Linked DNA regions of Homo sapiens: region 2 is linked to region 1. Evidence: fine-mapped expression QTL. Tissue or cell type: whole blood. Region 1 holds a variant in brackets; the other region holds the start of a gene. All regions are shown on one strand. Distances are between the middles of the regions.

Evidence for each region. PIP is the estimated chance that this variant, and not a neighbour inherited with it, causes the effect.
Region 2: it holds the start of ZDHHC20, and the variant in region 1 is fine-mapped to the expression of ZDHHC20 in whole blood (INTERVAL, PIP above 0.99).

What each region holds. Positions count from the first base shown.
Region 1 is chr13:21,541,396-21,546,395 of GRCh38, reverse strand. The region is part of intron 2 of MICU2 (mitochondrial calcium uptake 2); the gene reads left to right. Among named protein-coding and RNA genes, the nearest start is that of MICU2, 60 kb to the left of the region's middle. The variant C/TTTTC (reference allele first, on the strand shown) is at 1,880.
Region 2 is chr13:21,456,215-21,461,214 of GRCh38, reverse strand. It overlaps ZDHHC20 (zDHHC palmitoyltransferase 20), which reads left to right and starts at 1,912. Exons shown (of 13, transcript NM_001330059.2): 1 at 1,912-2,161. The coding sequence starts at 2,044. It overlaps LOC124903131 (a long non-coding RNA gene), which reads right to left and starts at 1,668. Exons shown (of 2, transcript XR_007063713.1): 1 at 1,036-1,668; 2 at 569-832. RefSeq lists a cis regulatory region at 1,671, an enhancer at 1,587-1,756 and a silencer at 1,620-1,999.

The DNA of each region.
Region 1 (5,000 bases):
ATTTCTCCTTCAGATCATGTTTAAACTAATTAAATAATTTGTTGTGTATAATGCTCTTATTATTTCACAATGCTTGAGGTTGCAAAAAAAAAAAAAAAAAGTCTTTTTATCCCTTCCAAAACAAATGTATTTGAAGACCATACTTTGGAAATTGGCAAGGAAGCCAGTTTTAGGCATTTTAGGGAATAACCATTTGTTTCCCTTTAGAAAAAATACAACCAGAGACTACCTTTGCATCCACTATTTAAATATTCCAGCAAACATAAACAAGCCATATACTTTGTTGAAGGAAAATAGCACCACTGAATTTGTCCTCTTTTTTTCTTCAGTTACCACTTAAAATGTTTTATTTATTGATTTTTTTTAACTGACCCATAATAATTGTACATACTTATGGGGTACATAGTGATGTTGCAATACATGTAGTATGTAGTGATCATATCAGGGTAATTAGTATGTGCATCTCAAACATTTATCATTTCTTTGTGTTGAGAACATTCAGTTTCCTCCTTCTAGATCTTTGAAACTAGGTGATGTATTATTGCTAATTGTAGTTATCTTACAGTGGTATATAGAACACTAGAACTTTGCCCTCCAGTCTTGCGGTAATTTTGTATCCTTTAACAAATCTCTTCCTATCCCTCTCTTCCTCCCACCCTTCCCAGCCTCTAGTATACTCTGTCCTACTTTCTACTTCTATGATATCAACCCTTTTTTTTTTTTAGATGGAGTTTTCGCTCTTGCTGGAGTGCAGTGGTGTGGTCTCGGCTCACAGCAACCTCTGCCTTCCAGGCTCAAGTGATTCTCCTGCCTCAGCCTCCAGAGTAGCTGGGATTACAGGCGCCCGCCACCACACCCATCAATTTTTGTATTTTTTAGTAGAGATGGAGTTTCACCACGCTGGTCAGGCTGGTCTCGAACTCCTAACCTCAGGTGATCTGTCCGCCTCGGCCTCCCAAAGTGCTGGGATTACAGGCGTGAGCCACTGCACCCGGCTGAGATAAACTTTTTTTAGCTTCCACATATCAGTGAGAATATTGGGTGTTTAACTTTTGGTTCTTGGCTTGATTTCACTTAGCATAATGTCCTCCAGTTCCATCCATGTTGCTGTTAATGACTGGATTTCATTTTTTTAATGGCTGAATAGCATTCCATTGTATGCATATACCACATTTTCATTATCTGTTCTTCATCTGTTGTTGGACACTTAGGTTGATTCCATGTCTTGGCTGTTGTGAATAGTGCTGCAGTAAACATGCTGGGGAGATGCAGATGCCTCTTTGATGTATTGATTGTTTTTTCCTTTGGATGAATGCCCTGTAGTGGGGTTGCTGGATCATATGGTAATTCTATTTTTAGTTTTGTGAGGAACTTCATACTGTTGTCCATAGTAGTATATGTTCTAGTTTACATTCTCACCAACAGTGTATAAGAGTTCCTTTCCTGGCCGGTGCAGTGGCTCACAAGTGTAATCCTAGCACTTTGGGAGGCTGAGGTGGGAGGATTGCTTGAGTTCAGGAATTTGAAACCACCCTGGACAACATAGCAAGACCTCATCTCTACTAAAAATCAAAAAATTAGCCAGGCCTGGTGGTGCATATCCATAGTCCCAGCTAGTTGGGAAGTTGAGCAAGAGGATTACTTGAGCCCAGGAAGTTGAGGACTCAGTGAGCTATGACCATGCCACTGCACTCTAGCCTGGGCAACAGAGCAAGACCCTGTCTCAAAAAAGAATTCCTTTTCTCTGCATCCTTGCAAGAGTTTATTTTTTGTCTTTTTGCTAATAGCCATCATAACTGGGATGAGACGATACCTCATTATAGTTTTGATTTGCATTTCCCTGATGATCAGTGGTATTGAGTTTTTTTTTTTTTTTTTT[C/TTTTC]ATGTGTTTATTGGTCATTTTGTATGTGTTCTTTTTTGAAGTGTCTATTCAGGCTCTTTGCCCATTTTTAATTGAATTTTTATTTTTTGCTGTTGATATTTTCTCCCATTCTGTAGGTTGTCTTTTTACCCTTGTTTGTTCCCTTTGCTGTACAGAAGCGTTTTACATCATCTCACTAATTTATTTTTTAAGTTTGGTATCATCTCACTAATTTATTTTTTGCTTTTGTTGTCTGTGCTTTTGAGGTCTTATTCATAAAATCATTTCCCAAACCAATGTCCTGAAGTATTTCACCTGTTTTCTTAAAGTGGTTTTGTAGTTTGAGGTCTTACATTTAGGTCTTTGATCCATTTTGAGTTGATTTTTATATAAGGTGAGGGGGTTAGATCTGGTTTCATTCTTCTGCATGTGGACATCTAGTTTTCCCAGCACCATTTATTGAAGAGAGTGTTCTCTCCTCAACTTAGGTTCTTGGTACTTCTAACTAAAATCAATTGGCTGTAGATACATGGATGTATTTCTAGGTTCTCTGTTCTGTTGGTCTGTGTTTCTGTTTTTATGCCATACCATGCTGTTTTTTGGTTACTACAGCTTTGTAGTATATTTGGAAGTGTGGTAGTTTGATGCCTCCAGCTTTGTTCCTTTTGCTGAGGATTGTTGTGGCTGTTTAGGGTCTTTTGTGGTTCCATAGAAGTTTTAGGATTTTTTTTCTACTTGCATGAAGAGTGTCATTGTTATTTTGATAAGGATTACATTGGATCTATAGATCACTTTGGATAGTGTGGTCCTTTTAACAATATTAATTCTTCTGATCCACGAGCCGGGGATGTTTTTCCATTCGTCTGTATCCTCCTCGGTTTCTTTCGTCAGTGTTTTGTAGTTATTTTTGTGAAGGTTTTCACCTCCTCAGTTAAATTTATTCCCATTTGTTTTGTGTGTATGTGTTTTTGTACCTATTGCAAATGGATTGCTTCTTGATTTCTTAGTTCATTGCTTGCATATAGAAAATGCTACTGATTTTTCTATGTTGATTTTATATCTGCAACTTTACTGAATTCATTTATTCTAAGAGTTTTTTGGTAGAGACTTTAGGTTTTTCTATGTATAAGATCATGTTGTCTGCAAATAGGAACAGTTTGACTTCTTCCTTTCCAATTTGGATGCCCTTTATTTTTCTTTCTCTTGCCTAATTGCTCTGACTAGGACTTCCAGTTCTATGTTGAATAAAAGGGGTGAGCATCCTTGTCTCATTTCAGTTCTTAGAAGAAAAGCTGAGAGCTTGTAGTATGATGTTAGCTGTAGCATTTACCACTTTTATTAGTGATATGAAGAAGGTTAGTTTTGCTAATGCATCATTTTCTGCCTTGGTTTCCATAATAGCTGTGACTGAATAAAAGCATGTATTAGAGTATAATCAGCTCTGTCTTAGGCTGATTCTAATATTGATGCCAAGTTGTCACATATATTTATGAAAAAGTTATGAAATAAAGAAAATGTGTCTATTGTCTAATTTTTATGTATTAGACTAGTAACCTCTACAAAATGAAATTAAGTTATGTAGTGCTGGTGTTGTTTTTGTAATTATGATTATCAAATAACTTTATTTTGGCCAGGGGCAGATTTATTGGATCTATAAGAACACTTAATGTGTATCAATGCAGCTTTACTATTTTAAGTATTAAAAGGCTCACTTACCTATAACAGGATATGCTGTATCTGGATTTTACTTCATAAATCCTCTGTAAATAGTGAAAACCACATGGTGGAATCTCTAATATGGGTGGAATCCTTTTAAAACATTTTACTTCCTGAACCAAAATTCCTAGTGCTTCAAGATCTATGCCGCCTCCTACAAAAACAAAAACCCCTAATGTGTTTTTCTTGTTTTCATATTCATACAATGAAACATTACAACCTCAATTCTAGATCTTTTTTCCTGTTTTTTGCCCCATTCTGTTATTTTCATACATAAGTGTGTGAATACATATCAAATAGCTGTGAAAATAATGAGACTGAATTTTTTATTTGTGTGAATGTGGAAATAGCCAAAGAAAGAGAGACAGGAGTGTCCCCCTACCCTACATTGAAAAAAACAAACTCAAACAAAAACAGAAGGAAAAATTAGATTATTTGCCAGATGGGTTTTATCCTTAAATAGAAAAATATTGTCCAGAAATACTTAGGTGTATTTAATATGCTCTTGCCTTGTTACTGCTGTAGGGAGAAAAAAGGTCATGGCTCCTGCTGTGCAGGTCAGACCATGGACCTCTTATTTTGCTGCTCAGCCATGAACAAGTAGTATAGAGTAAGCATCCTGGGTGAGACAACTGTCTACCAAGAAAACCCTGCCAGAGTGTTCTGGATTAGAAACACCACAACCTCTCATAATACTCAGGGAGAGGTGCATTAACTGAAGAGAAAGAGGAAGCAGGAGAGAACGGGTGTTCATTCCTAGTATCTTTGCCTTGTCTTTTTTTTTTAATCTAAAAATGAATTTTATGTAAGAGACTAGCTTCTAAACTTTTAATCAAAAAGTTAATTTCTTCATTATTTTCTAATTATTTATTCCATTTGAATTAAAAAAATTTAAAAAGATGTTTTTACAACTTAAACTGCATTAAGTATCTGGTTTTCTCCTTTTTGATGATCAAATTTTTATATACATGTCAAATAGAACTTGTAATCTACATTAAATAATGAAAAGCAGCAAAACTGCCTCTATAATCGTACCATGCATAATTATTCAGTTTTGTTAAGTGTTGAAAGTAGGCCGCAGGCTCTTTTTACTACTGTCATGGAATTCAAAGAGTCTAACACCTGTTTTTGAAAAATCTATATGAGATATGAAAATAAATCCTTCAAGGCCCATATTGTTACCTAATTCCTCTTGCCAATTTGTTTTACATGTAAAGTGGGGATATAATAATTTATCCAAAAGACAGGGACCTGGATAAGAAGACATTGTGAAATCTTTTCTGATTTGTTTATTCAGTTACTCATTCAACAAATATTTAAATGTTTAGCACTGACCTACATAAAAGTAAGACAGGTATGAAATCTGCCTCCATAGATTTTATAATTTACTTTTTACCTGTAATTCTGGTGTTATATTATTCAATCA
Region 2 (5,000 bases), 85 kb after region 1:
ACTAGAGAAAGAACCCCTCATCCAAGGGGATGGCACTAAACCATTCATGAGGGATCCACCCTAATGATCCAATACCTCCCACCAGGTCCCACCTCCAACACTGGGATCACATTTCAACATGGGATTTGGAGGGGACAAACATCCAAACCATATCCAATATCCTTGCCAACACTTTGATTTGGGACACCTACCCTCCTAAACTGTGAGACAACCAATTTCTATTATTCCCCAGTTTTGTGGTACTTTGTTATAGTCACCCTAGGAAACGAATGTGACAGTTTTATAGTTAGGTTATAAACAAAATGTCGTGAAAGATCATTTCTAGCAGCCCTGGAGCTTGTAAAGGACATGGCTTTGTGCTGAGCTCTAGCAGCATGGTTTTGGTACGTAGAGATGACATAGAGGAGAAACGGCTTTATGTTCTTCCATGTCCATCCGAATTCTATGTTGAGGTCTAACCCTCCTAAGCAGCCTCTCTGGAAAACTAGTTGAACTTGAACCTAAACCTACTGTCAACTAGGCCACTAACTAATATGACTTTTAAGGCACAAAATCAGGGAGAACAGAATCTTTTATACATGCTTTATTACTCAAGCAGCAGTGTGCAGTGATTAAATACTTACTCGCTTTTACTACATTTCTCTGACACAGCAAAGGGTGACGTCTTCTTCATGGAGACTTTAGTGAGCAGTAGCTAATTTAAAGCTCAGTGTAGGCCGGTCGTGGTGGCTCACACCTGTAATCTCAGCACTTCTTTGGGAGGTGGAGGCGGAGAGGGGTTGGGATTCCTTGAGCCTTGGAGTTCAGGGCCAGCATGGCAACAGGGCGAAACCTAGTTTTTACAGAAAATACAAACATCAGCTGGGCATGGTGGCGGGCCTGTAGTCCCTGCTACTCTGCAGGCTGAAGCAGGAGGAGTGCTTTAGCAGGGAGGTCGAGGCTTAAATGAGCCCAGGTCGTGCCACTGCACTCCAGCTTGGGCGACAGAGCGAGAAGACCCTGTTTCAAAAAACAAACACAAAAATTCATTCTAACCAAAACTGAATGCTAGTAGCAGGAACTGGTATGAAGATTGCGGTCTGGAATCCCTTCTAATGCGTCTGACCTTGCATTGTGAAGTCTTCACAGTGATGCTTCTGGGTTCTATATGATTATCGTCATTGCTTAGCAACCTCTAGTTGTAAATAAATTCTTTAAATTTCCTTAGTCGTTTGCGGGGCAAGGAGAGGGTCATTTACATGCCCTTTCCTTCTCGCTACTCAATCTTAAATTTGGGTTACGAATCAAACTGATGGACCCTACATGGCTTCTACCCGAAATTACAGGTATCTACCGTTCCATCTTCAAGAAAGGGAGGGGTTCCGCCAAGATGGACGAACATAAAAATCACAGGAGGAGCCTTCTAACAATGTGCATTCTTCGCACACTGAGTGGGGAATGGCCTTGTCATGTTTGAAACAGTGCCCCAACTACTCAATGTCCCAGGAACCCCAGTGGAGCGAGTTCTGTACACAGAGAGGGCCAAGATCCACAAATCAGCTAAGGAATCATTTCCATAGTCTCCCTCCCCTATTGAGTCTCGATCCACAAAAGCTATCCCCTGTCCCTCTCATCCATCAAGGGCGTGTTTTTCGCCTCTCCTTCCCCGGCCTCCCGCGTCCGCCCAGCCTGTCCGCATCCAGCCCCGCCACGCCCCATGGGCGGTCCCGAGCTGCGGCCCCGCCCCCTCACCGCCTCCCCGGCCGCGGAAACCCCGCCCCAACGACGCGGAGACCGGGGGCGGCCCGCGGCCCGCGGCGGGCGGGCTGGCGGGGACGGACGCGGGGGGAGGGGGGCGACGGGATGTGGGGTGGGGGCGGGGCCTGGCTGGGCGCCGGGACGGGAGGAGTCCCGGCGGCGCCTCGGACTTTTGCTCCCACAAGTCCTGCCTCGGAGGCGGGGGAGCTGGACCAGCAGCCGCCTGGAGCGTCCGAGTCACCGTCGCCGGGGCTCCCGCGCTCCCCAGAACGGTGGGACGCGGGGCTCGGCAGCCGCCAGCGGAACATGGCGCCCTGGACGCTGTGGCGCTGCTGCCAGCGCGTCGTGGGCTGGGTGCCGGTGCTCTTCATCACCTTCGTGGTCGTCTGGTCCTACTACGCGTACGTGGTGGAGCTCTGCGTGTGTGAGTACCGTCCCCGGGGACTGCGGCGGGGCGCGGGCCGCGGCTAGGGCGCGAGATAGGCCTCTGCGCCCCACACCCGCCGCCTTTCTGGAGCCAGCGCCGGACGCCGGGCGTCCGGCCCCGAACGCGCTCGGAAGCGCCGAGGTTGCTGCACCCGCCGCTTTGTTCAATCCTGCGGCGCGGCCTTGGGGCGACCTGGGGCTCCTGAAGCCTTGCGGCGGCTTCCCGGGTGCAGGTCTGGCCCAGGGAGGCCCCAAGAGCTTCCTGGTTCCCGCCGACACCGGGGGTCTGCATCCTTCTGGGAAGGAACGTGCAGAACGGGAGTAGTCGAGCTTCTTAGAAGGTTTAGGTTGTGTTTGTGGCTTTTTTGGCTTTTGTTCATTTTTTTTAAAAAACCAAATCTGTTCCTTCTGGATTGTTTTTGTTCAAACTGCGCGAGAAGAAACGCCTGTTACCTGTAGAGCCGGCTGTGGCGGGTTGGGGGAAGGGAGGTGTGTCTTTTGGTGGCCTCGGGCTGGAGGCGGGTCAGACCTGGAGGACGAGTAAGCTCCCACTTTTGATTTTTGGTGGTACTCGACTCATTGTAAAATTCGTTTATTTCTACTCTGAATCCAGCCGGCTTTTGCAGAAGGTTAAGACAGAAAGAATGGGTGGGAGGAGACATAACCTGATTATTTTTTTCTTGGCTGATTATTAAGGAGGCTTATATTTCTTATACTCATATTTTGGCGTGTTAATTTTCGTTACTTCCATTTTCCTGATAAGTTCTTAGCACAAAATTCTCATCTGATTCCCTGGAAAAAAGGAGTAGCATTGCAGTATACTTCAAGGATTTAACCTACTGGCTTGAATTGGTTGCCTTTAAGATTGAAGGAAATTGGTTGTCATTAATCAAAAACACTGTTTAGGGGTGACTGCTACATTTGTGATATTGGGCAATTTCTCCAACATTGTTTTGTCTTAAGTAAATTGTTCTTAGGCTTTGAGTATGTGGGTATTTTACACTTAAACTGGCCTCAACTAGGGTGTTCTGTATACATCTGCTGCCTATATCAATTTTTTATGAAAACCTAGGACCAAATGGTAAGTGGTGTTTGTAAACGTTATTGTTATTCCAGAATGTTCTACTCTTAGTCCTTAGACTGAATCTACCATTTTATGAAGGACTGTTAAGTGTTCTTTGAATAACGAACCACATCAGCTAGAAACTAATGTTATGAATGAGAAGAATCTGTACCACCCACTCTTGAAAGTGGCAGAATCAAGACTTCAATTATGTTTGGATTTGTACAGCTTTCAACCAAGTATTTGGTTAAAACCCTAGTTCTATACATGGAAGAGAATGCTTTGGCTCAGAAAATTTATAAGTTTTGAAATTAAAACATCCAGTTTTAAAATTACTTTGTACCTATAGAACGTTTAATTTTGGGACGACTATCCCTGCAGGTAGGCCCAGAATAAATTAGTTGTGGAATACATTTCCAAATAATATTAATCTTTTCAATATCATTGTTTAGTCTCATGCTTTTGGATACCAGAATGTTTACTAAAAATGATGTTTGAGTCAATTAAAATTACTAGATTTTAATATTTCTGGGAGCTACTTCCAGAAAGTGGTAGTGATCATAGGATTCTCATCAACTTATGATGATACCTCCTTTATCTTCTTATTTACTCTGAAGTGGGCATTTATTCTAAAAGTTATGTCATTCCTATTCTGTCAGAAGATTATTCCTACCGTATTTTAATTCCCGTAGTGGTTTTGAAGTAAAGCTGAAGGAACACTAAAAATGTGCATTTATGTTGAGATTCCACAGCTTAACCTGTAGATGGTTTTTGTCAAAAATATTAAGAAATGAGATCAAACAGTGCTGTGAAAAGTCTTAAATTGCTTCTGATTTCTTTCACCACTTCAAATAAAGAAGGAGAAATGAACATGAATTGAGAAGTGCCATGTGCTAGTGGGCATAGAGGGGACATTTCATTCACCCTCTCCTTTAATTCTTTCAGTATGTCACAGCATAGGTATCTCTACAGGTGGAGGACGTGAGACTGAGCGAATAGGTCCTTTTGGTTAGGTCACACAATTGATTATTGGAATGTGACCCACATCTTTCCGTTCTTTCATATAACTTCAGTAAGCTATGAGGGTCAATGGAACTGTAATTGTTTGGTCCATAATGGTGTGGGGGGATAAAGGGGTTGGCATATTTTTGGAGATCACTTAGTTAGGCTTGAGGCCCATTCTGTAGAGATTATACCCTACAATTTCATTAAGTTAAAACATTCTATAACTATGGCCTGATGCTTGGCAGAATCTTAAAATATTTGGTGGTGAAAGGTCTTATGTAGAGGCTGTATTAACTTCTGAGTTATCTCATTTTAACTAGAGAGAATTTGGGAGGTCTGCAGTGTCACTGGAGTATAAAATAGTTGAGCATAAAAGTGCATTTACTCATATTAAAACTATCCTTTAAACTACTTGTATGTATTTGTTTTCATAAGTACTGACCCTCCCACTGAAATATGTATAGATATATTACTTTATAGGAGGACTTAAATGGAGGGAAGTGTGAGTTTTACTTAAAAGTGCTGTTTTAATACTTTTATAGGATATTCTTTTTATTTATATATGTATTTTTTGAGCCAGAGTTTCACTCTTGTTGCCCAGGCTGGAGTGCAATGATGCGATCTTGGCTCACTGCAACCTCTGCCTCCTGGGTTCAAGTGACTCTCCTGCCTCAGCCTCCCAAGTAGCTGGGATTACAGGTGCCCGCCACCATGCCCAGCTAATTTTTTTTGTATTTTTAGTAGAGACGGGGGTTTCACCTTGTTGGTC